Linked DNA regions of Homo sapiens. The protein of the gene in region 1 purifies or fractionates together with the protein of each later gene. This does not show direct contact. Each region holds a gene or a part of one and is shown in the gene's direction. Other genes may lie near its edges.

Evidence for each region.
Region 2: the proteins of ATPAF1 (region 1) and TARS2 fractionate together in Homo sapiens (co-fractionation; one large-scale study listed by BioGRID). This does not show direct contact.
Region 3: the proteins of ATPAF1 (region 1) and TOP3A purify together in Homo sapiens (affinity purification with mass spectrometry; one large-scale study listed by BioGRID and IntAct). This does not show direct contact.

The regions. Positions count from the first base shown.
Region 1 is NC_000001.11:46,632,237-46,634,800, reverse strand, and holds the end of ATPAF1 (ATP synthase mitochondrial F1 complex assembly factor 1), read left to right. Parts: 3' UTR 1-2,064; downstream 2,065-2,564. UniProt on the Homo sapiens protein: Has a complex stabilizing activity in the assembly of the mitochondrial F1-F0 complex.
Region 2 is NC_000001.11:150,500,919-150,504,418, forward strand, and holds part of TARS2 (threonine--tRNA ligase, mitochondrial), read left to right. Parts: intron 1-3,416; coding exon 3,417-3,500. UniProt on the Homo sapiens protein: Catalyzes the attachment of threonine to tRNA(Thr) in a two-step reaction: threonine is first activated by ATP to form Thr-AMP and then transferred to the acceptor end of tRNA(Thr). Also edits incorrectly charged tRNA(Thr) via its editing domain.
Region 3 is NC_000017.11:18,304,995-18,308,494, reverse strand, and holds part of TOP3A (DNA topoisomerase 3-alpha), read left to right. Parts: intron 1-70; coding exon 71-144; exon of another isoform or gene 145-182; intron 183-999; exon of another isoform or gene 1,000-1,022; intron 1,023-1,528; coding exon 1,529-1,604; intron 1,605-3,274; coding exon 3,275-3,383; intron 3,384-3,500. UniProt on the Homo sapiens protein: Releases the supercoiling and torsional tension of DNA introduced during the DNA replication and transcription by transiently cleaving and rejoining one strand of the DNA duplex.

The DNA.
Region 1 (2,564 bases):
CAGAAATAAGAAAGTTGTTCTCCAGAGCTGGAAACCCATCTTTCGTTTGTAGTGTCACTGTTGTGGCTCCAAGCTCAGTGATAGGAAAGGACGGTGGTTACACACCAGCCTTCTGAACCCAAGGCCCCCAGTATTGTTGTCAGCTGCCTTTACCATGGCATTTCTTTCTCTTTCTTTTTTTCCTGAGATGAAGTCTTGCTCTGTCTTGCCCAGGCTGGAGTACAGTAGCGTGATCTCAGCTCGCTGCAACCTCTACCTCCCTGGTTCAAGTGATTCTGCTGCGTCAGCCTCCTGAGGAGCTAGGATTACAGGCGCATGCCACCATACCTGGCTTATTTTTGTATTGTTGTAGAGACAGGGTTTCACTTTGTTGGCCAGGCTGGCTGGTCTCGAACTCCTGGCCTCAAGTGATCCACCACCTTGGCCTCCCAAAGTGCTGGGATTACAGGTGTGAGCCACCGTGCCTGGCCTGACATTTCTTTATTGATCTAACATGCTCCACTCTGCTGCTCCTGCCTAAGATCTGGTTATATGACACTGAATGTGGTGAGTGGGAATTTAAGCAGTATTCGCAGTTTGTGTGTGTGTGTTTTCTTCCTTCCAGAAGAATTTTTATAGGTTGGGCCTGTCCCTAAGCTCTTTAAATAGGGTGGACATCCCACTATTCTCTGAGCCGTGTCTATTTTGTTGCACCTTTGAGTCTATGTATTGAGAGAGACAGATAGTATTTTTTTAAACTGGGGAAGCTGCTATCCTTTCACTATTTCTCTAAAGGTTGAGCTGTTAACTAATGTAAATTCTGGACCTGCTTCTGGTCCTGGCAGTTTATCTTTTGAGAAACTTGAGTCTTATCTGCCCTGCCATTTTCATTAAATGCCTTCTGACCTTCTGAATGTTTTGGGTCCCAAGAATTTTTGACATCAGATGGGGTTGTTTTTATTGGTATCCAGTTATGTTTGCTTGTCTTTCCAGATGGGCCCAGTTATTAGCCATACATAGTACATTGATACACCTCCACCAGCGGGTGAGGAAATGATGGAAAAAGGAGTAAGAAGTGGCCATTCGTTTTAATCATTCCTCCTGGATTTGTCCTCAGTCCCCAACTGCCAAGTAGGATGTGTCCATGGATAAATGTGTGGGGCATGACTAAAGTACCACGTAGCTGTTCTTTATATTTATTTACCTAGAAAGATCTGGCAAAGAACTCAAAGAAAATTGTACCATTTAATCAGTAAATTTGTCCCCTGGTGCTAGCATGGTGTTATAGAAAGTGGACAGGCTTTAGAGTTAAGTGAATCTGGGTTCATATGTTAGTGTTGCTATTCATTAGCTCTATACTGTTGAACAAATTGCTTAAACTATCTAATTTTGGGGTTTTTTTTCCATCTAAAATAGGGATAATAATATCTACCTCATAGGATTATTGTGAGAATTAAATTAACTTCACTATAGTAGAAAATATCAACTACCATCCTTTTCTCTACTTCCCTTGCCCCTCATTAAAGACTAATACAAGTTAGCATTTCAGATGTGTAGATCATTCTTTATTCCAGTTAAAAGAACAAACTTTATCTCATCAGTTCTGAAACTTTAAGATGCAGTAGCATCACCTAAAGTGCTTTTAAAATGCAGATTCTCAGGCCTCAACCGTACACCACCCCCCCACACACGTACTAAATCAAGAATATGTGCAGAAGGTACTGGGAATCTACTTGTTAATATGTGCTCCAAATGATTCTGATGTAGGTAATTAGCCAGCCACACTTTGAGAACCACTGCCTTATCTATTCTTTACAAAAATGTACATTGCCAGGTCTTTCTTTCCTGTGGATGCTAACTATAGGATATTTAGGTTCCTCTGTTCTTTGTCTCCCATAGTGGCCCCCTTTGCAAACTCCAAATACATTATATTTATTTATTCTTGTGTCTTTTTTCCCCCACTAGACTGTGAGCTCCTTGAGGGCCAGGACTTATCTCTGTTCGCAGTGCCAAGGACATGGCCTGGACCATAGAAGATACTCAGTTTTTTGTTGAATAAATAGGTAATATGGATTTCAACCAAAACATTGTCTTGTGTATGTACCTGCATGTAAATACTCTAGATTTAAAAGAATCTCTTAATACACATAGATCGAGAATTTGTTGAGTAGAAATATTTGCAAACCAAGATACCAAGTTATACACAGTTCTCTGTACCTCACCTAATCCACTGGCATTACCTTGGTGGACCATTACACAGTACAACTTAACAGCTGCTCACAGAGCATCTATTCTGCAGCCACTATGTTAAGTGCTGGACACAGAAAGATGAGTAGAGTATGATTCCTGCTCGCAGGCTCTGTTTTAGCCACTGCCTGTTTCTCTCTTGCCTCTGATTCAGTGCCTCACACCTACACCTGATTATAGTTTGCTTTGTCTAGTTCTTGGATGTTCATACTGGTACTTCTTTCTTCTCCAACCAGTTTGGAAGCTGGAGCCACATGTTTTGCTTTGCACTCTCCATACTGACCTTTTGTTCAGTCTTGGAGAAGAGGTACTAATGCCCACTTCCTAGTCATTTGATT
Region 2 (3,500 bases), about 100 Mb from region 1:
AGGTTTAAGGTAGGATTGAGAAGCCTTCATAGAAGGGATCACCATTGCCATTGTATCCAGGGTGGAAGGAAAGGCTGAAGGTAGATGCAAGGAAGTTTGTAGGCATGGTAACAGGAAGTTGAGGCTCTTCCCATCCCATGGTATCAATTATCTGAATTCTTCATGAGGCAGGATCATTTGCTGAAATGAGAGTGGAGAAGAGGAGAGTTGTCAGTGAGGGGGCTGAAGATATGAAGAAAAGGCTGTGTGCAGTGGCCCCCTCTTGTAATCCCAGCACTTAGGGAGGCTGAGCTGAGATGATCACTTGAATCCAGGAGTTTGATACCAGCCTGGGCAACATAGTAACAGGGCATCATAATAAGACCTCGTCTCTACAAAAAAAAATTTTTTTTTTTTTTTTTTTTTTTTTTTTTTATTGAGACTATGTCTCGCTCTGCTGCCCAGGCTGGAGTGCAGTGGCTCGATCTCGGCTCACTGCAAGCTCCGCCTCCTGGATTCACGCCATTCTCCTGTCTCAGCCTCCCGAGTAGCTGGGACTATAGGCAGGCACCCATCACCATCACCATGCCTGGCTAATTTTTTTCTTTTTTTTTTTTTTTAGTAGATATGGGGTTTCACCGTGTTAGCCAGGATGGTCTCGATCTGCTGACCTCATGATCTGCCCGCCTTGGCCTACCAAAGTGCTGGGATTACAGGCATGAGCCACTGCGCCCGACCGTCTCTACAAAAAATTTAAAACAAATTTTAAAATTAGCTGGATGTGATGGTGGGCACCTGTAGTCCCAGCTACTCAAGAGGCTGAGGTGGGAGGATCACTTGAGCCCAGGATTTTGAGGCTGCATGAGCTATGATCAAGGCACCACACTCCAGCTTGGGTAACAGAACAAAACCCTGTCTCAATAAAATAAATAAATAAAAAGATAGAGAAAGGAAATTACTCAAGAACTGTTATATAGCTAAAATCTTTTTTTTGTTTGTTTTGTTTTATTTATTTATTTTTATATATTTTTTTGAGATCAAATTTTGCTCTGTCGCCCAGGTTGGAGTGCAGTGGCGCAATCTCGGCTCACTGCAACCTCTGCCTGCCAGGTTCAAGCGATTCTCCTGCCCCAGCCTCCCGAGTAGCTGGGATTACAGGCATGTACCACCACGCCCGGCTAATTTTTGTATTTTTAGTAGAGATGGGATTTCACCATGTTGGCCAGGCTGGTCTTGAACTCCCAACCTCAGGTGATCTGCTCGCCTTGGCTTCCCAAAGTGGTGGGATTATTACAGGCATGAGCCATCTTGCCCAGCGTTTTTTTCGTTTTTGTTTTTTTCCCCGAGACAGACTCTTGCTCTGTTGCCAGACTGAAGTGCACTGGCGGATCTTGGCTCACTGCAACCTCCACCTCCCAGGTTCAAGCGATTCTCTTGCCTCAGCCTCCCGAGTATCTGGGACAGGTGTGCACCACCACGCCCAGCTAATTTTTTTTTTTTTTTTTTTGAGGCGGAGTTTTACTCTGTCGCCAGGCTGGAGTGGAGTGGCACAATCTCGGCTCACCACAACCTCCACCTCCTGGGTTCAAGCGATTCTCCTGCCTCAGCCTCCCCAGTAGCTGGGATTACAGGCACCCGCTACCACACCAGCTAATTTTTGTATTCCCTTTTTTAGTAGACGGCATTTCACCGTGTTGGCCAGGCTGGTCTCGAACTCCTGACCTCAGGTGGTCCACCTACCTCGGCCTCCCAAAGTGCTGGGATTACAGGAGTGGGCCATGTGCCTTGCCTGGCTAAAATCTTTTGAGTACTCAAAGTTGCTGTTGACTGTGTTGGGGTCTTTTATTCAGGTAACATGTGTATTCTCATTTTTATGTCCCAAGTGTTTATTCCAGCATATGGTATTTATTTACCTGCTTCACTAAGTAGTTAGTAAATTAAAATATTAACAGTAATGAAAGTGTGTCTTCTGATTTATTTCAGCAATAACAGTAGGCAAATAAAATATCTTTATTACTAAGAAAAAAATTGAGAGAGGTTAAACAATGTGCTTAAGGTTACAGATATAACAGTCATAAAGTGTGTATTATGTTGAATCAGTCTAATAAGTTGCTGGCTCAGATACTGCTATAAAAAGAGAGAGCAAAAAACTGGAACATCCCTGAGGAGAACAGAGCATAGAGCTTATTAGGGCAATCCAAAGGATTGCTGGCAGCAGACAGGGACCAGCTGAATCTCGAAATACTGACTTCCATGGTGGCATCAATCTCTGCATTTGCATCTGTGTGGTTTGTGACATATTGGGCAGCACTGAGCAGTTCTCTTGCAGGGCCAAAGATGTAGGAGGCTAAGGTGCAGAAGAACAATGAATGGTACAAAGGGAACTAGGGAAAATGGTACAGCTTCATGGGATAAGAAACAAAGGTGGGAGGGGCCTGAGGATGGGAGAGAAAAAGAGGAGTTAAAGAACCGGTGGGTTGAAGTGCCATTAATAGGAATAATTGTCATGGCCGGGTGTGGTGGCTCACACCCATAATCCCAGCACTTTGGGAGGCCGAAGTGGGCAGATCACTTGAGATCAGGAGTTTGAGACCAGCCTTGCCAACATGGTGAAACCCCATCCCTACTGAAAAAAAAAAATACACATATGTGTGTGTGTGTGTGTGTGTGTGTGTGTGTGTATATATATGTGTGTGTGTGTGTGTATGTGTGTATATATATGTGTGTGTATATATGTGTGTGTATATATGTGTGTATATATGTGTGTATATATGTGTGTATATATGTGTATATATATGTGTGTGTATATATACACACACACACACACACATATACACACACATACATATATATATGTTAGCTGGGCGTGGTGGCATGTACCTGTAGTCCCAGCTACTCAGGAGGCTGAGGCAGGAGAGTCGCTTGAACCCGGGAGGCGGAGGCTGCAGTGAGCTGAAATCGTGCCACTGCACTCCTGTCAGGGTGACAGAGTGAGACTCTGTCTCAAAAAAAAAAAAAAAAAAGGAATAATTCTCAGAGCTGGCTGACCAAGAGACAGTAATCAGAGTAGGGTGTCTGATGGACAGTTTCAGAGGTACAGCCATTGGGGGAGATGACAGGATAAAGGGTGTAGCCATAGATGGGTGGTGGTGAAGATCTCTGAGATGAGGAGCTCAAGGAATTGAGAGGCCAGGGTGTGGACATCAGGTAATATTATAACACCATTATTAGATGGAGAGAGCTGCTGAGAACTACTGCCAGAGTGAGTTGAGTAGAGTGAACTGGAGGGGTAGCGTATGATAGAGCTAGGTGACATGATGAAGGTAGTAGCCCGGGATGAGGGTAGGTTAAAGGGTGGGATGGCACAGGTAATGGAGGATAGTGGTTCTGGATAGTGCTTCTGGCTTATCTCGTGCCTTCCCATCTGTTTCCTGTAGATTGACGTGCACCTCCACGATGCCCTGGGCCGGCCACATCAGTGTGGGACAATTCAGCTTGACTTCCAACTGCCCCTGAGATTT
Region 3 (3,500 bases), on another chromosome or scaffold:
CATTTTAATGATTTGGCAGAATAATAACTGCAAAAAGACTAACTGAATTTTGAATTTTGTCATCATTCAGAATGTTACCATGGTAATGACTTCAGTTTCTGGACATTTACTGGCTCATGATTTCCAGATGCAGTTTCGAAAATGGTCAGTACAATTCTCAAGGGAAGGACTTTCAGATTATAGTAAGTTGTGAAATTTCACAGGAATTTTGAGGCATGTTGATCTTACTGGGTAATTTTTTTTTTTTTTTTTTTTTTTTTTTTTTTTTTTTGTTGGAGACAAAGTTTCAGAGTGAGACTCTGTCTCCCAGGCTGGAGTGCAGTGGTGTGATCTCGGCTCACAGCAACCTCTGCCTCCTGGGTTCGAGTGATTCTCCTGCCTCACCCTCCCGAGTAGCTGGGACTATAGGCACGTGCCACCACACCTGGCTAGTTTTTGTATTTTTAGTAGAGACAGGGTTTCACCATGTTGACCAGGCTGGTCTCGAACTCCTGACCTCAGGTGGTCTGCCCACCTCAGCCTCCTGAAGTGCTGGGATTACAGACCGTGAGCCACCATGCCCGGTTTTTTTTTTTTTTTTTTTTTGAGTCAGGGTCTCGCTGCGTTACCCAGGCTGGAGTGCAGTGGCGCAATCTCGTCTCACTGCAACCTCCGCCTCCTGGGTTCAAGCGATTCTCATGCCTCAGTTTCCCAAGTAACTGGCCTTACAGCCATGTGCCACTACACCCAGCTAATTTTTTCTATTTTAGTAGAGATGGAGTTTCACCCTGTTGCCCAGGCTGGTCTTAAACAAAGCAGGGTTTGCCTTCTTTTGCCTCCCAAAGTGCTAGGATTACAGGCGTGAGCCACTGTGCCTTGGTAATTTATTTATTTATTTATTTATTTTATTTATTTTTTGAGACGGAGTTTTATTCTGTCGCCTAGGCTGGAGTGCAGTGGCACAATCTTGACTCATTGTAACCTCCACCTCCCGGGTTCAAGCGATTCTCCTGCCTCAGACTCCCGAGTAGCTGGGACTACAGGTGCCTGCCACCACGCTTGGCTAATTTTTCGTATTTTTAGTAGAGACGGGGTTTCACCGTGTTAGCCAGGCTAGTCTCGATCTCCTGACCTCGTGATCCACCCACCTTGGCCTCCCAACGTGCTGGGATTACAGGCGTGAGCTACCACGCCCAGCAGTAATTTATAATACTAAGATGACCTAGGATTATCTGATCCATTGTGAATTTTTATTAAATCTTTAAACAGTCACTTTTGGTGTTCCTCAAAATTGCCAGACCTTTTTCATGCAGCCATTGGATTGCATTTACCTGTGAAAGGGCTCCAGAATGCCATCTTATCAGTCCTGTTCACACTCTTGGAGAAGTGGACAGTGTGTCATGCAGAGGGTCATAGCCTTACTTTCAATTCACCGGGACCTTTTCTTTTGGGGATACACCATGAACCCATTGGAACAGTTTGCTGTCATTAGATTGGAGGGCTCTCTGTCATGTACTGAGTTGGGACTCTGTTTTCATTTCTTTTCTAGGCAGAGCTGCAACCCTCTTGTCCTCTTTGAAGCAGAAATTGAAAAGTACTGCCCAGAGAATTTTGTAGACATCAAGGTAGGGTCTTTTGGAAGACATATGGCACTGAGTCAAACCACAGAGTCAAACAGAGTGATTTCTTTGTTTTTAATGCATTGGCATTTGGAGATAAGGTTTTCCACCAAAGTCACTACCATGATTTAAAAAGCTGGTTCCCACCCATTGTATAAATGTGGCTAAGTGGCCAAGGGACTGAAGTAAACTTTTTTTATGAATGGTAGTTGTTTAAATCCTAGGAATAAAGGCTGGACATGGTGGTTTATGCCTGTAATCCCAGCAATTTGTGGGGCCAAGGCAGGATCACATGAACTCCAGGAATTTGAGACCAGCCTGGGCAACATAGTGAGACCCTATCTCTCAAAAAAAAAAAAAAATTTAACCAGGCATGGTGATGTATGCCTATAGTCCCAGCTACTAGTAAGGCTGAGGAAGGAGGATTACTTGATCCCAGGAGGCAGGAGGTTGAGGCTGCAGTGAGCCGTAATCACACCACCACACTCCAGCCTGGTGAGAAAGTGAGACCCTATCAAAAAATAATCCTAAGTATTGTAAATTATTAGCGCGTAGCCCCCATCTCACCCCTTGTTAGATGAAAGAGGCTACAAAGTATAAATGCCTGTTTGACAGTAAATTGCCAGTTGTCAAGCAGTCAGGGCATGTATAGTTAATTTATTTTTAATTTTTATTTATTTATTTATTTATTTTTTGAGACGAAGTCTCGCTCTTGTCCCCCAGGCTGGAGTATGATGGTGCAATCTCAGCTCACTGCAACCTCTGCCTCCAGGTTCAAGCGATTCTCTTGCCTTAGCCTCTCAAGTAGCTGAGATTACAGGCGCCTGCCACCACACCCGGCTAATTTGTGCATTTTTAACAGAGATGGGGTTTCACCATGTTGGCCAGGCTGGTCTCGAACTCCTGACCTCACGTGATCCACCCGCCTCAGCCTCCTAAAGTTTTGGGATTACAGGTGTGAGCCACCGAGCCTGGCCAGTTAATTTATTGAGAACTGATAAAACTTTGGATGAAATTCAATTGGGATTCATTTTGTTTTGTTTTGTTTTGTTTTGTTTTGAGATGGAGTCTTGCTCTGTCACCCAGGCTGGACTGCAGTGGTGCGATCTCGACTCACTGCAAGCTGCGCCTCCCGGGTTCATGCCATTCTCCTGCCTCAGCTTCCCGAGTAGCTGGGACTACAGGTGCCTGCCACCATGCCCGGCTAATTTTTTGTATTTTTAGTAGAGACAGGGTTTCACCGTGTTAACCAGGATGGTCTCGATCTCCTGACCTCGTGATCCACCCACCTCGGCCTCCCAAAGTGCTGGGATTACAGGCGTGAGCCACCACGCCCAGCCGGCTTCGTTTTTTTTAACTAGGTCATAATCAGAACCTCTCGAAGTGTGCGTGCGCGCGCGCGCGCGCGCGTGTGTGTGTGTTAGAGCTGAATTTCAGGTTTTGTCATATTGGGGAAGTTATATTAAACCCTCTATTCTAGAAACTCGTTTATGGTTCTAAGGGGTTGTATCATGATTAGCACCAATGAGAGCAGTTTTCTCTGTTCTCTTTCCCTTGCCAAGTTGTCACACTCCAAGAGCAGCATTAACCTTCAGTCAGATCCCCTTAGCTTAGAGATGTCAAGTCACTGTTGTGCAATTCTGTTCTCACCACTCTTATTCCACTGCGAACTTAAGAAAACTTTGGAACGAGAGACTCGCCAGTGCCAGGCTCTGGTGATCTGGACTGACTGTGATAGAGAAGGCGAAAACATCGGGTTTGAGATTATCCACGTGTGTAAGGCTGGTAAGTGCTGCTGCTGCTGCTGACTTTCTCTACTTTGGAACTCCATAAATAGAGTGTTCTTGTTTATATGTGCACATGGGCCACGGATGAGGTCCTCTGCAGGTACTCTCCCTCCCA